2 separate regions of the Homo sapiens genome follow, and region 2 is linked to region 1. Evidence: fine-mapped expression QTL. A gene starts in region 1. The other region holds a variant in brackets. All regions are shown on one strand. Distances are between the middles of the regions.

Evidence for each region.
Region 2: its variant is fine-mapped to the expression of ARRB2 in whole blood (INTERVAL, PIP 0.90).

The regions. Positions count from the first base shown.
Region 1 is chr17:4,707,029-4,715,542 of GRCh38, reverse strand. ARRB2 (arrestin beta 2) reads right to left here and starts at 4,911. Exons shown (of 15, transcript NM_004313.4): 1 at 4,799-4,911; 2 at 500-530. The coding sequence starts at 4,821. RefSeq lists enhancers at 412-481, 5,124-5,293 and a silencer at 4,665-5,194.
Region 2 is chr17:4,671,236-4,679,235 of GRCh38, reverse strand. It overlaps PELP1 (proline, glutamate and leucine rich protein 1), which reads left to right. Exons shown (of 17, transcript NM_014389.3): 6 at 2,424-2,483; 7 at 2,729-2,879; 8 at 3,074-3,200; 9 at 3,352-3,439; 10 at 3,874-3,962; 11 at 4,041-4,157; 12 at 4,280-4,427; 13 at 4,567-4,726; 14 at 5,562-5,617; 15 at 5,780-5,986; 16 at 6,091-7,545; 17 at 7,705-8,000. The coding sequence ends at 7,797. Among named protein-coding and RNA genes, the nearest start is that of PELP1, 29 kb to the left of the region's middle. The variant G/A (reference allele first, on the strand shown) is at 4,979.

The DNA of each region.
Region 1 (8,514 bases):
GGAGGACTCAGCCCAACCAGCCAGGTGTGTGTGTATGTGTGTATGTGTGTGTGTGTCTGTGTGTGTGTGTGTTTGGATCCTCGGGGAGAACTCAGCCCAACCAGCCAGCTAGAGAGCAGCTGCCACCCTCACTAGGTCCCCTCAAGGGGCTCTAGGATAAATAGGCCATAGCCCGGGGGCTGTTAGGTTTTCCCAGCCCCACGCACCTTGGGTTGGCTCCTAGGAGGGCTACAGGCACATGGCTTGCTTTTGGCCTCCTCCTCTGTGGTCTTGCTTGGGGACCCAAGCCTGCCCCACCCAGCCCTGTGGCTGGCTCAGGCTGAGCAGCCTCTGCGGCAAGGGGCTTCAGGAGGGAAGGAAGTCGGCGCTTAGCTGTCACAGGAAGTGGGGAGCTAGGGGTTGGGGATCATCTTTGGGTAGGTTGGGGATCGTCTAGGGGAAGGCTGGGCTTTGTTGGGGCCCAGGGAGGGTCAAAAGGGTAAGTGCTGTGGAGACTCACCTTGCAGTTAGGGCTCGACTTCTTGAAGACCCTAACAAAACAGAAAGGGAAACCCCACTGCCTCCCTCAGACTCAGCAGGGACCCCACACCAGGACCCTCTCCCTCCCAGGCCTGAGAAGCAGTGCTCACCCAGGCCTCCTGCCTGAGGCTGTGGGGCTTTGCCCAGCTCTGCCCCTTTCCCCTTCTTCCCGGAAGGTCCTTCCTATTTCTAACGTGGTGGCAAGGGGAACCCTTCTTCCCGGAAGGTCCTTCCTATTTCTAACGTGGTGGCAAGGGGAACCCTTCTTCCCGGAAGGTCCTTCCTATTTCTAACGTGGTGGCAAGGGGAACCCTTCTTCCCGGAAGGTCCTTCCTATTTCTAACGTGGTGGCAAGGGGAACCCTTCTTCCCGGAAGGTCCTTCCTATTTCTAACGTGGTGGCAAGGGGAACCCTTCTTCCCGGAAGGTCCTTCCTATTTCTAACGTGGTGGCAAGGGGAAATGCCCCTTGTCTTGTCCACCCTCATTCGTCCCCTTCCCTCCCCAGTAATGGCCACTGGTTGCCCTAGGAACCACCCAGGCTCTTCCCAGAGGACCCGAATGGGCAGGTAGCCACAGTGTCTGGATAAGACCTAACCATCTTTCCATCTGGTCTACAGCTCTGACAGCTGGAGCATATAGGAGAGCAATGACCCTGGCCTTTGGCCCTCAGATAGTTTCTACCACAGGCCCTACCCAAGTTCGACTCTACTCACCTCCAACTGTCCCCAACTCCGACCTCAAGAGCTTAAAAGCCTATTTGTCTTTTAAGGCCCAGCCTTTAGGAAGCTGACCCAGCCCAGACCCTGGTCGCTCCTTGTTTTGGGTTCCTGTCACACCTTGTTTATGTTTTACTTGTGGTGTGGTAGCACACAAGGATAGTTAGCTCCCTCCCTCCTCAGACTGTGAGCCTCAGAGGCCTTATTAATTTAGGCATCTCCAGCACAATGCCAGCCATATCATGAAGATGGTAATGCTGCTAACATTTCAGAGTGACTACTCCATGCCCAGCACTGTTCCAAGTGTTTCAAATGTGTCATCTCTTGTAATACTCTGTTTTTTGAGACAGAGTCTCACTCTGTTGCCCAGGCTGGAGTGCAGTGGTGCGATCTCAGCTCACTGCAACCTCCGCCTCCCAGGTTTAAGTGATTCTCCTGCTTCAGCCTCCTGAGTAGCTGGGATTACAGGAGTGAGCCACCATGCCCGGCTATGTTTTGTATTTTTTTTTTTTTTTTGGAGATGGAGTCTCACTCTATCACCAAGGCTGGAGTAGAGTGGCACGCTGTCAGCTCACTGCAACCTCCACCTCCTGGGTTCAAGCGATTCTCATGCCTCAGCTTCCTGAGTAGCTGGGATTAGAGGTGCCTGCCATCATGCCTGGCTAATTTTTTTTTTGAAACGGAGTCTCACTCTGTCGCCCAGGCTGGAGTGCAGTGGTGCGATCTCGGCTCACTGCGACCTCTGCCTCCCGGGTTCACGCCATTCTCCTGCCTCAGCCTCCCGAGTAGCTGGGACTACAGGCACCCACCACCACGCCCGGCGAATTTTGGTATTTTTAGTAGAGATGGGGTTTCACTGTGTTAGTCAGGATGGTCTCAATCTCCCGACCTCGTGATCCACCTGTCTCAGCCTCCCAAAGTGCTGGGATTACAGGCGTGAGCCACCACGCCCGGCCGCTAATTTTTATATTTTTAGTATAGATGGGGTTTCCCCATGTTGGCCAGGCTGATCTCAAACTCCTGACCTCTAGTGATCCGCCCGCCTCAGCCTCCCAGAAGGCTGGGATTACAGGCTTGAGTCACTGTGTCTGGCCTGTATTTTGTATTTTTTTAGTAGAGACGAGGTTTCCCCATGTTAGCCAGGCTGATCTCCAACTTCTGACCTCAGGTGATCCACCCGCCTCAGCCTCCCAAAGTGCTGGGATTACAGGCGTGAGCCACCGTGCCCGGCCTTAGGTTGCAGTGAGCTGAGATTGAGCCACTGCACTCCAGCCTGGGTGACAGAGCAAGACTTTGTCTCAAAAAATAAATAAATAAATAAATTAATTAAATTAAATAAAACCACCCAGTGATGGAGCTCCTAATATCTCTGTTTTACAGGTGAGGAAACTGAGGCAGAGAGAGGTCAAGTGTTTCAAGGTCACAGAGGGAGTAAATGGTGGGAATTAATAGAAACCAAGGCAGTCTGGCTCCGAGTCCATCCTCTCGATCAATATTACACTATCTGTCTCTGCAGTTGGCATAAATAGTTTGTTGAATTGAAGGTTATTTGCTTTCCAGTTGCTGAAACAATTTAAGCCTGGACTCCACCCATTGCTGGGAGGGTAAGGAAGTGTTTGGCAACCCCAGTGATCTGGCCAATTGTGGGCCTGTTCTTTGAAGCACCACCTTACTCCTTCCAATCCACTCTGCCTCAGCAGTGATCCCTGGAAAGGATCCTCAGATAGATAGCAGAAACGTGAAATCCTGCCAACTAGCCCATCCCTCTTCCAAGTCTACCACCCCATTCCCAGAGGACCCCAATGGGCAGGTTACCACAGTGTCTGGGTAAGACCTAACCATCTTTCCATCTGGTCTCCAGCTCTGACAGCTGGAGCATATAGGAGAGCAATGACCCTGGCCTTTGGCCCTACATGGTTTCTACCATAGGCCCAGTTTCTGCTACAACTTCACTTGCCCCTTCTTCCCAGAAAGCCAAGCTGTCCAAAGGTTGTAAGGCAAAGGGTATGGAGGGCCCCAGGTATTCCTAACCAATAAAAGAGAATACACATCGATATGGTAGCCGCTAGAATAAACACCCTATCTTTCATCCCAACTTGGGAGCTGAGTGCCGTGGCATCATCCAGGCTCTCCCTCCCCTTTGCTTCTGGTTTTCCTCTTTGTCCCAGGGTGTCCTCCCATTAGGAGCCCTGGCACAGGGCTGTGACAGCCACAATCAGTGGGCCAACTGGAGTGTGGTTCTGGGGCAATTGCCCTGGAGCAGCTGCAAGGCACTTGCCCTTTGGATCCTAACCCAGCCACCTCCTGCCAGGCTGGGGAGGAGCAGCGTGCATATACTAGGCTGGCCAAGGAGGCAGAGTGTGGGGATGACCAGGGAGGTGCCCAGTGGGAGCAGGGGTAGCTGAAGCAGATGTCCTTTCACACTTCCTGCTATTCGCTCCATTTCCTGTGGCCCAGAATTTCATGGGGGTGAGGGAAATTGTGCCAAGTTAGCAGTCTCCTTTGGTCCATCCGTCCCACTCCCTGAACCACATGACGGAAATCAGGGGCCTCCCACAAGTCAGCAACTTCCCCTTTCTCTGGGATGTTTAAACCCTGATCCAGGAGACGGATCATCTCTCTGATGATCTCTTTCTGATGCTCGTCTACTTGATGCTCAGAAACCCGGGTTCTCATACTCTATAGGTTGGAAGTGGGGTTGATATGATGTTTTGCAGAGCAAGCCAGAGCTCAGGACCAATTCCCTATTCCTGATACCCTCTGAGTTGAGGCCTACAGCCCCAACCTTTTCGTCTTTTGCTCCCGCTCCCCTGCGACTCAGGCATCCACCCCTTGCCCCTTGGGGGTGTTGAGTCACAACAGGAAGTGGATTTTGCTAGAGACCAAAAAAGAGAACTCGGGGTATCAGTGGAAGGAAAGAGCCTCGATTGCACAGAAAACATCCGGGGAGTGGACGCGCGCCCAGGGTGAATACTGCCTCCCCCACCCCCAGAGAGAGGGATACGATCTAGTTTCAGGGAGGGTCGCCACGCACTCGGCTCCCCCAAGATGAAGCTGTTGCTCCTGGCAACCCAAGGGAAGGTAGAAGTTTGGGTGAGGAGCCACCCGGCCCTCGGGACAGGTGTGGGCAGCGCGACTACCTGGGGGATATTGGATAGGAGGCTTTCCATTGGCTTGGCGCGAGTCTGGAGTGGATCCCCCCCGTCCCGGCATCCAGCCTCCCCGTACACGACCCCTCGGGGCCAGCCACCTGCTCCTCCTTCCTCCATCCCTGCATCGCAGCCTGCACGGGAGAGCCCAGTAGTCTGGCCCCACATCCCTGCGAGAACCCCGACACCGGTTTTTCTGATCCCCCTCAGGCCTCGCTTTCTGCAGGGGCCCGGGCATTTCCCCCCCACCCTCATTATCCTCGAGGACCTGCGCGTGCGGCCCCGGATGGCTGTCCCTAGGGACCCAGGCGTCCGGCCCCCAGATCCTCTCCGCTGCGCCCTCGTCTGGGACCGTCCCAGCCCCCGCCCCGAGCCGCCGCCCATGCCCCGCCGCGTGGCCCCACCTCCCTTACCTGGTCCCGGGTTTCTCCCCCATGGTGCGCGCGCCCGCCGCCCGCTCGGTTCGCGGCTCGCTCGCAGCCTCCTCGCCCGCTGCCAAGATCCCTGCTCCTCCCCGCGCCAATGCGCACGCGCGCCCTCCGCGCTCTCGCCTCTTCCCCCTCCCTCCCGGCCCCGCTCTGGTCTTGGGGAACCGGGGCCAGATGCGTCAGCCGGATCGCGCGCGCCGCGGCGCTGCCCGCCCTCTCCTAGCAGACACGCGGGGCCATTGGCTCCGCCCCCAGCCCTTCGCGCTCCTTCCCAGCCTGGTAGCCCTCCCCCGCGCGCGGGGCCAGCTCCCACTCCTCCCGCCCATCTCCCCGCCCCGCTGCAACCCCTTGAAACCGATTGGACCCCCCTAAACCAAGGCGCCCGCCTTCCAGGGGATCTAAGTCTTTCGATTGGCCTTCGGCATCCAGAACCTGCAGGGGTCTCCTCCCCTTTGTTTGCTTTCTCAGTGGCGGTGGGGGCGACCGGGCTGCTGGGGGCGGTGGAATGAGCTGAAGCGCCGTCTGGGAAGGAGGATGGTGGGGGGGAACACGTGGGTGAGCGGTTCAATTGCGTGATGCTTGCTTCAGTGCGCGCCGCTCACCTGCTCCACTCGGAGCGTGCCGCCTTCTGTGGCCAGCCCTCCCGCTTCTTCACTGCAGCGTGTCAGCTCCTCCTGGTGTTTGCATTTGATCTTCGCAGGGTTCCCTTTTCCAATGTCTCTGACTATCCATCTCCTTCACCCACCCATCCCAGCTAACATCCACTCACTCACCCGCTCCCATCCATCGGTCCATCTATGGACCCATCCATCCGTGCCTATGTTATGCTATTCACTATGCCAATCGATGGGGACACATACGAATTACCATGGCCCCTGCCTTCCTAGAATAGTTGAGGAGACACATACACAGGTATTACCCAGGAATGCTATTACAGAGGTCTGAGTCAGAAGACACAGCCGCTAACAGCAATTGGCCCGGGCGGGGGTGGAGGGAGTGCAGGCTGTCCAGAGCGGGGAACAGATGAGGACAGTCTTTCTGAAGGATGCGCAGAAGTTTTTTTTCTTTTTCTTGTTTTTTTTTTTTTTTTTGAGACAGAGTCTCACTCTGTCGCCGAGGCTGGAGTGCAGTGGTGAGAGGTGACAGCGTGCTGGCAGCTCTCACTCACTCTCGGCGCCTCCTCGGCCTTGGAACCCACTCTGGCCGCGCTTGAGGAGCCCTTCAGCCCGCCACTGCACTGTGGGAGTTCCTTTCTGGGCTGTCCAAGGCCGGAGCCGGTTCCCTCAGCTTGCGGGGAGGTGTGGAGGGAGAGGCGCGGGCGGGAACCCGGGCTGCGCGCGGTGCTTGCGGGCCAGCGCGAGTTCCGGGTGGGCGTGGGCTCGGCGGCTCCGCACTCGGAGTGGCCGGCCAGCCCCGGGCAGTGAGGGGCTTAGCACCTGGGCCAGCAGCTGCTGTGCTCAATTTTTCGCTGGGCCTTAGCTGCCTTCCCTCGGGGCAGGGCTCGGGACCTGCAGCCCGCCATGCCTGAGCCTCCCCTCCCCCTCCGTGGGCTCCTGTGCGGCCCGAGCCTCTCCGACGAGCACCGCCCCCTGCTCCAAGGCACCCAGTCCCATCGACCACCCAAGGGCTGAGGAGTGCAAGCACATGCGGACTGGCAGGCAGCTCCACCTGCGGCCCCCAAGCGGGATCCACTGGGTGAAGCCAAATGGGCTCCTGAGTCTGGTGGGGACTTGGAGAACCTTTATGTCTAGCTAAGGGATTGTAAATACACCAATCGGCACTCTGTATCTAGCTCAAGGTTTGTAAACACACCAATCAGCACCCTGTGTCTAGCTCAGGGTTTGTGAATGCACCAATCCACACTCTGTATCTAGCTACTCTGGTGGGGACTTGGAGAACCTTTGTGTCTACACTCTGTATCTAGCTAATCTAGTGGGGACGTGGAGAACTTTTGTGTCTAGCTCACGGATTGTAAATGCACCAATCAGCACCCTGCCAAAACAGACCAATCAGCTCTCTGTAAAATGGACCAATCGGCTCTCTGTAAAATGAACCAATCAGCAGGATGTGGGTGGGGCCGATTAGAGAATAAAAGCAGGCTGCCTGAACCGGCAATTGCAATGCACTGGGGTACTCTTCTGTTAGGTAGACCTTTTGTTCTTTTGTTTTTTGCGGTTAAATCTTGCTGCTGCTCCTTTTTTGGGTCTACACTGCCTTTATGAGCTGTAGTACTCGCTGGGAAGGTCTGCAGGTTCACTCCTGAAGCCAGTGAAACCACGAACCCACTAAGAAGAATGAATAACTTCGGAGACACGGCCTTAAGGGGGGTAACACCGCAAAGGCCTGCAGCTTCACTCTTGAGCTAGCGAGACCACGAACCCACCAGAAGGAAGAAACTCTGAACACATCCGAACGTCAGAAGGAACAAACTCCGGATATGCTGCCTTTAAGAACTGTAACACTTGCTGTGAGGGTCCATGGCTTCATTCTTAAAGTCAGTGAGACCCCCTACAAATTCTGGACACTGGTGTTGTGTCGGCTCACTGCAACTTCCATCTCCTGGGTTCCAGCTGTTCTGCCTCAGTCTCCCGGGTAGCTGGGATTACAGGTGTCCACTACCACGCCTCGCTAGTTTATATATATATATTTTAGTAGAGATGGGGTTTCAATATGTTGGCCGGGTTGCTCTTGAACTCCTGACCTCAAATGATCCGCCTGCTTGCGCCTTCCAAAGTGCTGGAATTATAGATGTGAGCCACTGCGCCCAGCCTCTTTTTTTTTTTCTTTTTTAGGAGATGGAGTCTCACTCTGTCACCCTGACTGGAGTGCAGTGGTGGGATCTCGGCTCAACAAAACCCCTGCCTCTTGGGTTCAAGCAATTCTGTGCCTCAGCCTCGTGAGTATCTGGTATTACAGACACCTGCAATGCCTGGCTACTTTTTGTATTTTTAATAGAGACGGGGTTTCACCATGTTGGCCAAGCTGGTCTCGAACGCCTGACCTTGTGTTCCACCTGCCTCAGCCTCCCAAAGTGCTGGAATTGCAGGTGTGAGCCACCGCGCCTGGCTGGGCAGAAGTTGAGAAAGGGCATTTCAAAGAGAGAGACAAGGCACGTCCTGTTGCGTAGTGTTGGTGGGGAAGTCTGGAACAGGCTGTGGAGGATTTTGTATAGCAGATGGAGTGAGATGGAGGGCCCCACAGAAGGACATGTGGAACCAGTACTGGTTTTTAAAGCAGAGGGGGTTGGGTGCAGTGGCTCACGCCTGTAATCCCAGTACTTTGGGAGGCCGAGGGGGGTGGATCACCTGAGGTCAGGAGTTCGAGACCAGTCTGGCTAACATCGTGAAATTTAGCCTATAATCCCAGCTACTCGTGAGGCTGAGCCAGAAGAATCACTTGAACCTGGGAGACGGAGGTTGCAGTGAGCTGAGATCGTGCCGTTATACTCCAGCCTGAGTGAGAATAGTGAAACTTCGTCTCAAAAACAAACGGGCCGCGCGTGGTGGCTCACGCCTGTAATCCCAGCACTTTGGGAGGCTGAGGTGGGCGGATCACGAGGTCAGGAGATCAAGACCATCCTGGCTAACGTGGTGAAACCCTGTCTCCACAAAAAAGTACAAAAAATTAGCCGGCATGGTGGCAGGCGCCTGTAGTCCCAGCTACTTGGGAGGCTGAGGCAGGAGAATGGCCTGAACCTGGGA
Region 2 (8,000 bases), 36 kb after region 1:
GCCAACATGGTGAAACCCTACCTCTACCAAAAATACAAAAAAATTAGCTGGGTGTGGTGGTGTGTGCCTGTGGTTCCAGCTACTTAGAACATTGAGGCAGGAGATCCCCTGAAGCTGGGAGGCAGAGGGTGCAGTGAGCTGAGATCGTGGCACTGCACTCTAGCCTGGGTAACAGAGTGAGACCCTGTCTCAAAAAAAAAAAAGGTCATCTGGAGAACTTCCCTCTGTTGAGGGTGTTGAGGGTTTTGGCTTTGTCGGTTGCCAGCACTTCAGATAAGAATCTGTCATGCAGAGGCTCCAGGGGCAATTTGCACTTGGAAAATCTCGCAGACTAGTACTTAGGAAAACTGATAACTGCCGTTTTGAAGTGTCTGTGTTTTCTGTTACATTCCCCGGATACTCTCAGGGTAATTGTAGACTCCAAGCTCAGGATTACTACTCCCAAGTAATGTGAATCAAGCATTCTGAGTCCATGAGGTCAATTCCTGCAGAGACTTGAACTCACTTCCTCGTCCTTGCCACATTGATGAGCAGTTCCTCGGAATGGGTGGGAAGACTGACCTACTCTTGAGAGAGCCCCAGGACATGCTGTGTGTGTGCGCGTTTTGAGTGAACTGTTCCAAGCGAGTCATTGCTTTGGTTTGCTTTGTGGGTCAGCCAGGGTAACCTGTGGTTAGAGCCGTGTCGCTTCACCGTACACTGCTTTATTGCAGTCACATAAGCAGACTTCTGTTGGCTTCAGTCCAGCTTTTTGAGCCGTTTTTGGAGATAGGGTCTCGCTCTGTGACCCAGGAGTGCAGTGTTAAGATTGTAGCTCACTGTAACCTTGAACTCCTGGGCTCAAGTGATCCTCCCACGTCAGTCTCCCAAGTAGCTAGGACTACAGGTGTGCACCACTAGGATGTCTCGGGGAAAGCGTGAGCCTGCTCTTTCCCCTTCTCTGTATGTTGCCAGTGTTGGCTCCAGATTCTTGTTTTTCCATATGCTTGTCTTGTTATCCTTACTAATTCTTTTTTTTTTCTGAGACAGAGTCTTGCTCTGTCACCCAGGCTAGAGTGCAGTGGCGTGATCTCGGCTCACTGCAACCTCCGCCTCCTGGGTTCAAGCAATTCTCCTGCCTCAGCCTCCCAAGTAGCTGGGATTACAGGTGCCCACCACTGTGCCCAGCTAATTTTTGTACTTTTAGTAGAGATGGGGTTTCACCATGTTGGCCAGGCTGGTCTTGAACTCCTGACCTCGTGATCTGCTCACCTCAGCCTCCCAAAGTGCTGGGATTACAGGTATGAGCCACCGTGCCTGGCCTTTTTTTTTTTCTTTTTGAGACAGGGTCTCACTCTCATCACCCAGGCTAGAGTACACTGACTGGCATGATCTCGGTTCTGGGCTTGGGTGGTCCTCCCACCTCAGCCTCCCAAGTAGCTGGGACTACAGGCATGCGCCACCACACCCGGCTAAGTTTTTGTATTTTTAGTAGAGATAGGGTTTCTCCATGTTGCCCAGACTGGTCTCAAACTCCTTGGCTCAAGTGATCCGCCTGCCTTGACCTCCCAAAGTGCCTGGATTACAGGCGTGAGCTACTGCACCCAGCCTGTGCTTTTTTATTGACATGTTAAGTAATAAGATCTAGAAGCAGGTCTTACAACGACTATAATTGCAAATTAGTGATGCATGTGAATGATATTTCAGGATGTGTTACAATTATAATGTGACATGAAAATGATTCTATTAGTGACAGTCACAGGTACTGCTGATACTACTGTGGCTATTTGTCTGCATTTATAAGTGAAGGAAACACTACATTTTACAAATAGGCTAGTGGGAGTAATTTTTTTCCCCATCCATGATCACAGGCCCCCTATGATTGTATATCCAACTAAATTGTGGTTCTCAGGTTAAACACTCCTGCCCTAGCACCTTCACACAGCAGGCAGAGAAAGTGCCGAATGACAGATTGCTACTCCGAGACTTGCTGCCTTACTTCTGCTCTAGCAGCCTTCTTTTTTGACCTTGTCCTGCCCTCATACCTCTGGTTAGTGTCTTAACTTCCAGCTTGGACCCTCGTTTTTGTGTGTGAGCTGGTAGAGAGTTGGAGTGTGGAGACTGTTTTTTAGTACTATGTCCTTTTGGCTTGAGGGAAAAATTTTGCAAAAACTGTCAAGGAGGAAGCCCAGCTGTCTCTGGGACAGGGCCAGGCCCTTTTCGCTCCCAAGCAGGAAGCCGAGGACCAGAGCTGGCGTTGAGGAGTCTTTTACCATGAAAGCATGTCCGTGCCCGGTGTTGATGCCCCATAGAGGGCTTTGCTTCTTGTGTCTACAGGAAAAAGAGACCTGGGCTTAGAGTCTGCTGCTGGGAACGGATGGGATGTACATCTCTGGCTCTCAGAGCTGGCTCACTGGCCTCTTCCTTTTTTCCTCCACATCCAGGGCAAGCTGGCCTCATTTTTTCTGTCTAGGGTGGATGCCTTGAGCCCTCAGCTCCAACAGGTAAAGGGCAGGGAGGGAGAGGGAGAGCCCGGGGATCTGAGCCTGGATTGTCTCTTGCTGCTCCTCCTCTAGCTTTTCTGTCCTGCCTTCATATGCCCATCTGTGTCCTTCGGCCTCATTGTCCCATCTCAGGTTTCCCTCAGAGCTCTCTCTGATCTCCATCTCTTTTGGGTGTCAGTGGGGCTGGGGGTTCTGTGGCTGGGCTGGATTCCCATCTGACCAGGTTTCTGTCCTTTCTCCCGCAGTTGGCCTGTGAGTGTTATTCCCGGCTGCCCTCTTTAGGGGCTGGCTTTTCCCAAGGCCTGAAGCACACCGAGAGCTGGGAGCAGGAGCTACACAGTCTGCTGGCCTCACTGCACACCCTGCTGGGGGCCCTGTACGAGGGAGCAGAGACTGGTAGGGACCAGGGCTGCTAGTTAGTGGAACAATAGTGAGGAAGCGTGGCAGGAAGGAACAGGAGGGGAGCCCAGAGACATGGGGCAGTTGGTTTTTGGGGAAAATGGGTTAGAATACAGGCAGGTCGTCCACCAGAAATGACAGAGGAGGGGATGGAAGAAAGACAGTGTACAGGGTAGTTGTGCTTCTGCCAGCTCCTGTGCAGAATGAAGGCCCTGGGGTGGAGATGCTGCTGTCCTCAGAAGATGGTGATGCCCATGTCCTTCTCCAGCTTCGGCAGAGGTTTTCGGGACTGGCCCGCTGCCTAGGGCTCATGCTCAGGTGTGTGTGGGTATTGGAGGGAGCGGAGGCGTGGAGCAGGAGGGATTGATGAGGGAGTGTCGCCTTCATCAGGAGAAAGGAGATGAAGGTGGGTGTGGGAGTTATGCCAGGGAGCCTGCTCTGAAGGTCTCCCTGCTCTGATTCTCTTTAGCTCTGAGTTTGGAGCTCCCGTGTCCGTCCCTGTGCAGGAAATCCTGGATTTCATCTGCCGGACCCTCAGCGTCAGTAGCAAGAATATTGTAAGTGGGATTTGTCATCTCTTCAGAGCCCTTGCTCAGGATACCAGGCAACCAGGAAAGTACTGGGGACCTGAGTCTCCCCAAACAGTGTCATCCTGGAGTCGTCCCAGAGAGCTTCCTACTTTTGTCCAAATAACATCACTTCCTATGTGTCGTGACACAGGAGCACAGTGTCAGAGTGTAGCAAATGCTTCCTTGGGGGAGGGTGAATTTGGGGATCAGCTGAGTCATTGCTGAGAGGCCCAGCCATCCTTCTTACCTTCCATCCAGGGTCTATTTTAGAGGATAGGGGTTTGATTTTGTTGGGAGAGCTGAGATCAGGGGTTGGGTTTCTTACCTATGTGTACATATGTAAATGGTCATTCCCTGTTTCTGTCTCTCTCTGGCTCTCACTTTCTTCCTCCACTCTTTATCTCTGCCCCTTTTTTCTCCAGAGCTTGCATGGAGATGGTCCCCTGCGGCTGCTGCTGCTGCCCTCTATCCACCTTGAGGCCTTGGACCTGCTGTCTGCACTCATCCTCGCGTGAGTGGGATTGGGCTGGCTGTGGTGAAGGGATAGGGCGTGCCAGAAACGAGGGTCACCATTCCTTCTCTGCCCCAGGTGTGGAAGCCGGCTCTTGCGCTTTGGGATCCTGATCGGCCGCCTGCTTCCCCAGGTCCTCAATTCCTGGAGCATCGGTAGAGATTCCCTCTCTCCAGGCCAGGAGAGGCCTTACAGGTGACCATCCAGGAAGGCAGGAAGGGAATAAAGAGGAGAGGGGGGTGAGGGGGTGCAGGTGGGCTGGGGCTTCTGGCATGTTGACCCCCCATTCATAACTGCCATCTTTGCTCATGACACAGCACGGTTCGGACCAAGGTGTATGCGATATTAGAGCTGTGGGTGCAGGTTTGTGGGGCCTCGGCGGGAATGCTTCAGGGAGGAGCCTCTGGAGAGGCCCTGCTCACCCACCTGCTCAGCGACATCTCCCCGCCAGCTGATGCCCTTAAGGTGAGGAGGCCTCAGCTCCGCCTTAGGACTCATCCTGTGCCCTTTGACCAAGTGTGCCTGCTCAGGAAACACTGTCTGCTGTGGCTGTCTTGCCTTGTTGTTTGCCTGTGGATGTGATTTATGTTTTCTCTGCCTCCAGCTGCGTAGCCCGCGGGGGAGCCCTGATGGGAGTTTGCAGACTGGGAAGCCTAGCGCCCCCAAGAAGCTAAAGCTGGATGTGGGGGAAGCTATGGCCCCGCCAAGCCACCGGAAAGGGGATAGCAATGCCAACAGCGACGTGTGTGCGGCTGCACTCAGAGGTGGGTGAGGCCTGTGCCCTGGACCACTGGGGCTCAAACGGGACCCCATCCTTTCCCCTAGTGGGACTCCCCTACCTACTATACCCTTAGGTGAAACTTTTGTGGGGAGAGTGCCTAGACCAGCCTTCGTCCACTGCGATAAGTGATCCCCCAAACAGCAGGTGAAGGGGAAGGTGCCTGTGAAATGCAGAGCCAGGCGGAAGCCCGCAGAGAGGCCAGGAGGAGGCACCCAAGCAGCCGCCCTGTTGCCAG[G/A]GCTGCAGGCGGCCTCGGGTCCTGCGGTTAGACCGGGAGCTCTGGTAGCCGACACAGCCCCTCCAAGGCCTTCGCTTCCTCCGGCGTTCAGCACGTCCTTGGTGTATCCACTTTCTATCAGGCAGAGTTCCAGCATGCGGGGAAGGCTCCTCCCTGTGAAGCTGACATTCTTCCAAGGGCAGGCTGCCTGGGGGAGCTCCCTGCTCTCACCGTAACCACTGACCTGTCCACAGGTTGCTAGTCGGATACTGTGCAGTTAATGGATGCCTTTCCTCTGGGTCCCATATATTTCACTGCCTGCCACCCCATCCCATGGGAAGGGGAGAACCGATTGTTCCCAAATATATAAATGCAAAATTATAAAATTTATAATTTTTTACTTACATTGTCTCAATTAAATACCGTCAGTGGCCCTATACAGTAGAGGTACTTTTATGATCCCCATTTTCTAGTTGAGAAGTTAAATGACTTGGCCAAGATAGGCAGTGGCAGAGTTGATGCCCATTTTGGGCTGTATGCTTCAGAAGCCCTTGCCGTCAGTCTGTTGGGAGCCTACCCTTTACACACCATTCTTCTTCCCCAGGCCTCAGCCGGACCATCCTCATGTGTGGGCCTCTCATCAAGGAGGAGACTCACAGGGTTAGTGGAGCCTCGTCTCCGTGGAGATAGGGGAAGGGGCCCCTGCTCTGTACACATTGGGGGGTGTGGCCCAGAGGTGGGTCCATTCCGACCTGGGAGTAGGCTCTGGAGAAGGGTTGGGTGGTCTTGGGGATGTTTCCAGGTGTGCTCTGTCCTTTTCAGAGACTGCATGACCTGGTCCTCCCCCTGGTCATGGGTGTACAGCAGGGTGAGGTCCTAGGCAGCTCCCCGTACACGAGCTCCCGCTGCCGCCGTGAACTCTACTGCCTGCTGCTGGCGCTGCTGCTGGCCCCGTCTCCTCGCTGCCCACCTCCTCTTGCCTGTGCCCTGCAAGCCTTCTCCCTCGGCCAGCGAGAAGATAGCCTTGAGGTAACTGTGATGGGCCAAGCCCCTCTTTGGTTCCTGGAGTCTCTTGTTTCCAAGAGACTCCCAGTATTTCTGGTGCTCACACTTGCCCTTTCTTCTTTCCTCAGGTCTCCTCTTTCTGCTCAGAAGCACTGGTGACCTGTGCTGCTCTGACCCACCCCCGGGTTCCTCCCCTGCAGCCCATGGGCCCCACCTGCCCCACACCTGCTCCAGTTCCCCCTCCTGAGGCCCCATCGCCCTTCAGGGCCCCACCGTTCCATCCTCCGGGCCCCATGCCCTCAGTGGGCTCCATGCCCTCAGCAGGCCCCATGCCTTCAGCAGGCCCCATGCCCTCAGCAGGCCCTGTGCCCTCGGCACGCCCTGGACCTCCCACCACAGCCAACCACCTAGGCCTTTCTGTCCCAGGCCTAGTGTCTGTCCCTCCCCGGCTTCTTCCTGGCCCTGAGAACCACCGGGCAGGCTCAAATGAGGACCCCATCCTTGCCCCTAGTGGGACTCCCCCACCTACTATACCCCCAGATGAAACTTTTGGGGGGAGAGTGCCCAGACCAGCCTTTGTCCACTATGACAAGGAGGAGGCATCTGATGTGGAGATCTCCTTGGAAAGTGACTCTGATGACAGCGTGGTGATCGTGCCCGAGGGGCTTCCCCCCCTGCCACCCCCACCACCCTCAGGTGCCACACCACCCCCTATAGCCCCCACTGGGCCACCAACAGCCTCCCCTCCTGTGCCAGCGAAGGAGGAGCCTGAAGAACTTCCTGCAGCCCCAGGGCCTCTCCCGCCACCCCCACCTCCGCCGCCGCCTGTTCCTGGTCCTGTGACGCTCCCTCCACCCCAGTTGGTCCCTGAAGGGACTCCTGGTGGGGGAGGACCCCCAGCCCTGGAAGAGGATTTGACAGTTATTAATATCAACAGCAGTGATGAAGAGGAGGAGGAAGAGGAAGAAGAGGAAGAAGAAGAAGAGGAAGAAGAGGAAGAGGAGGAAGACTTTGAGGAAGAGGAAGAGGATGAAGAGGAATATTTTGAAGAGGAAGAAGAGGAGGAAGAAGAGTTTGAGGAAGAATTTGAGGAAGAAGAAGGTGAGTTAGAGGAAGAAGAAGAAGAGGAGGATGAGGAGGAGGAAGAAGAACTGGAAGAGGTGGAAGACCTGGAGTTTGGCACAGCAGGAGGGGAGGTAGAAGAAGGTGCACCTCCACCCCCAACCCTGCCTCCAGCTCTGCCTCCCCCTGAGTCTCCCCCAAAGGTGCAGCCAGAACCCGAACCTGAACCCGGGCTGCTTTTGGAAGTGGAGGAGCCAGGGACGGAGGAGGAGCGTGGGGCTGACACAGCTCCCACCCTGGCCCCTGAAGCGCTCCCCTCCCAGGGAGAGGTGGAGAGGGAAGGGGAAAGCCCTGCGGCAGGGCCCCCTCCCCAGGAGCTTGTTGAAGAAGAGCCCTCTGCTCCCCCAACCCTGTTGGAAGAGGAGACTGAGGATGGGAGTGACAAGGTGCAGCCCCCACCAGAGACACCTGCAGAAGAAGAGATGGAGACAGAGACAGAGGCCGAAGCTCTCCAGGAAAAGGTGAGAGGCCAGGCAGGGAAGGTTCCTTGGGCGAGAAGGTGGGGCTGGCGGGAGAAGGGGTGGCAGCTGCTTCTCTTAGGAGAGGTTTGCCCAGCCTGAACCATTCTTCTGTGTATGTGTGTGTGACTATTCTGAATCTTGTATCTTTGTGCCTAAAAGGAGCAGGATGACACAGCTGCCATGCTGGCCGACTTCATCGATTGTCCCCCTGATGATGAGAAGCCACCACCTCCCACAGAGCCTGACTCCTAGCCATCTTCTGCACCCCACTCTTTGTTTCCAATAAAGTTATGTCCTTAGATAGCGACTGCTGCTTCTGCCTTTTGCCACACCTGGGTCCCCAGCCAGAAGCTCAAGTGTCTGCTGGGCTTTTCAGGGTGTCCATAGTATTCCCCAGATGTCTCCATAGCTGTCCTCTTTTTGACGATCCAGAGAGGAACAACTGACATTGGTGT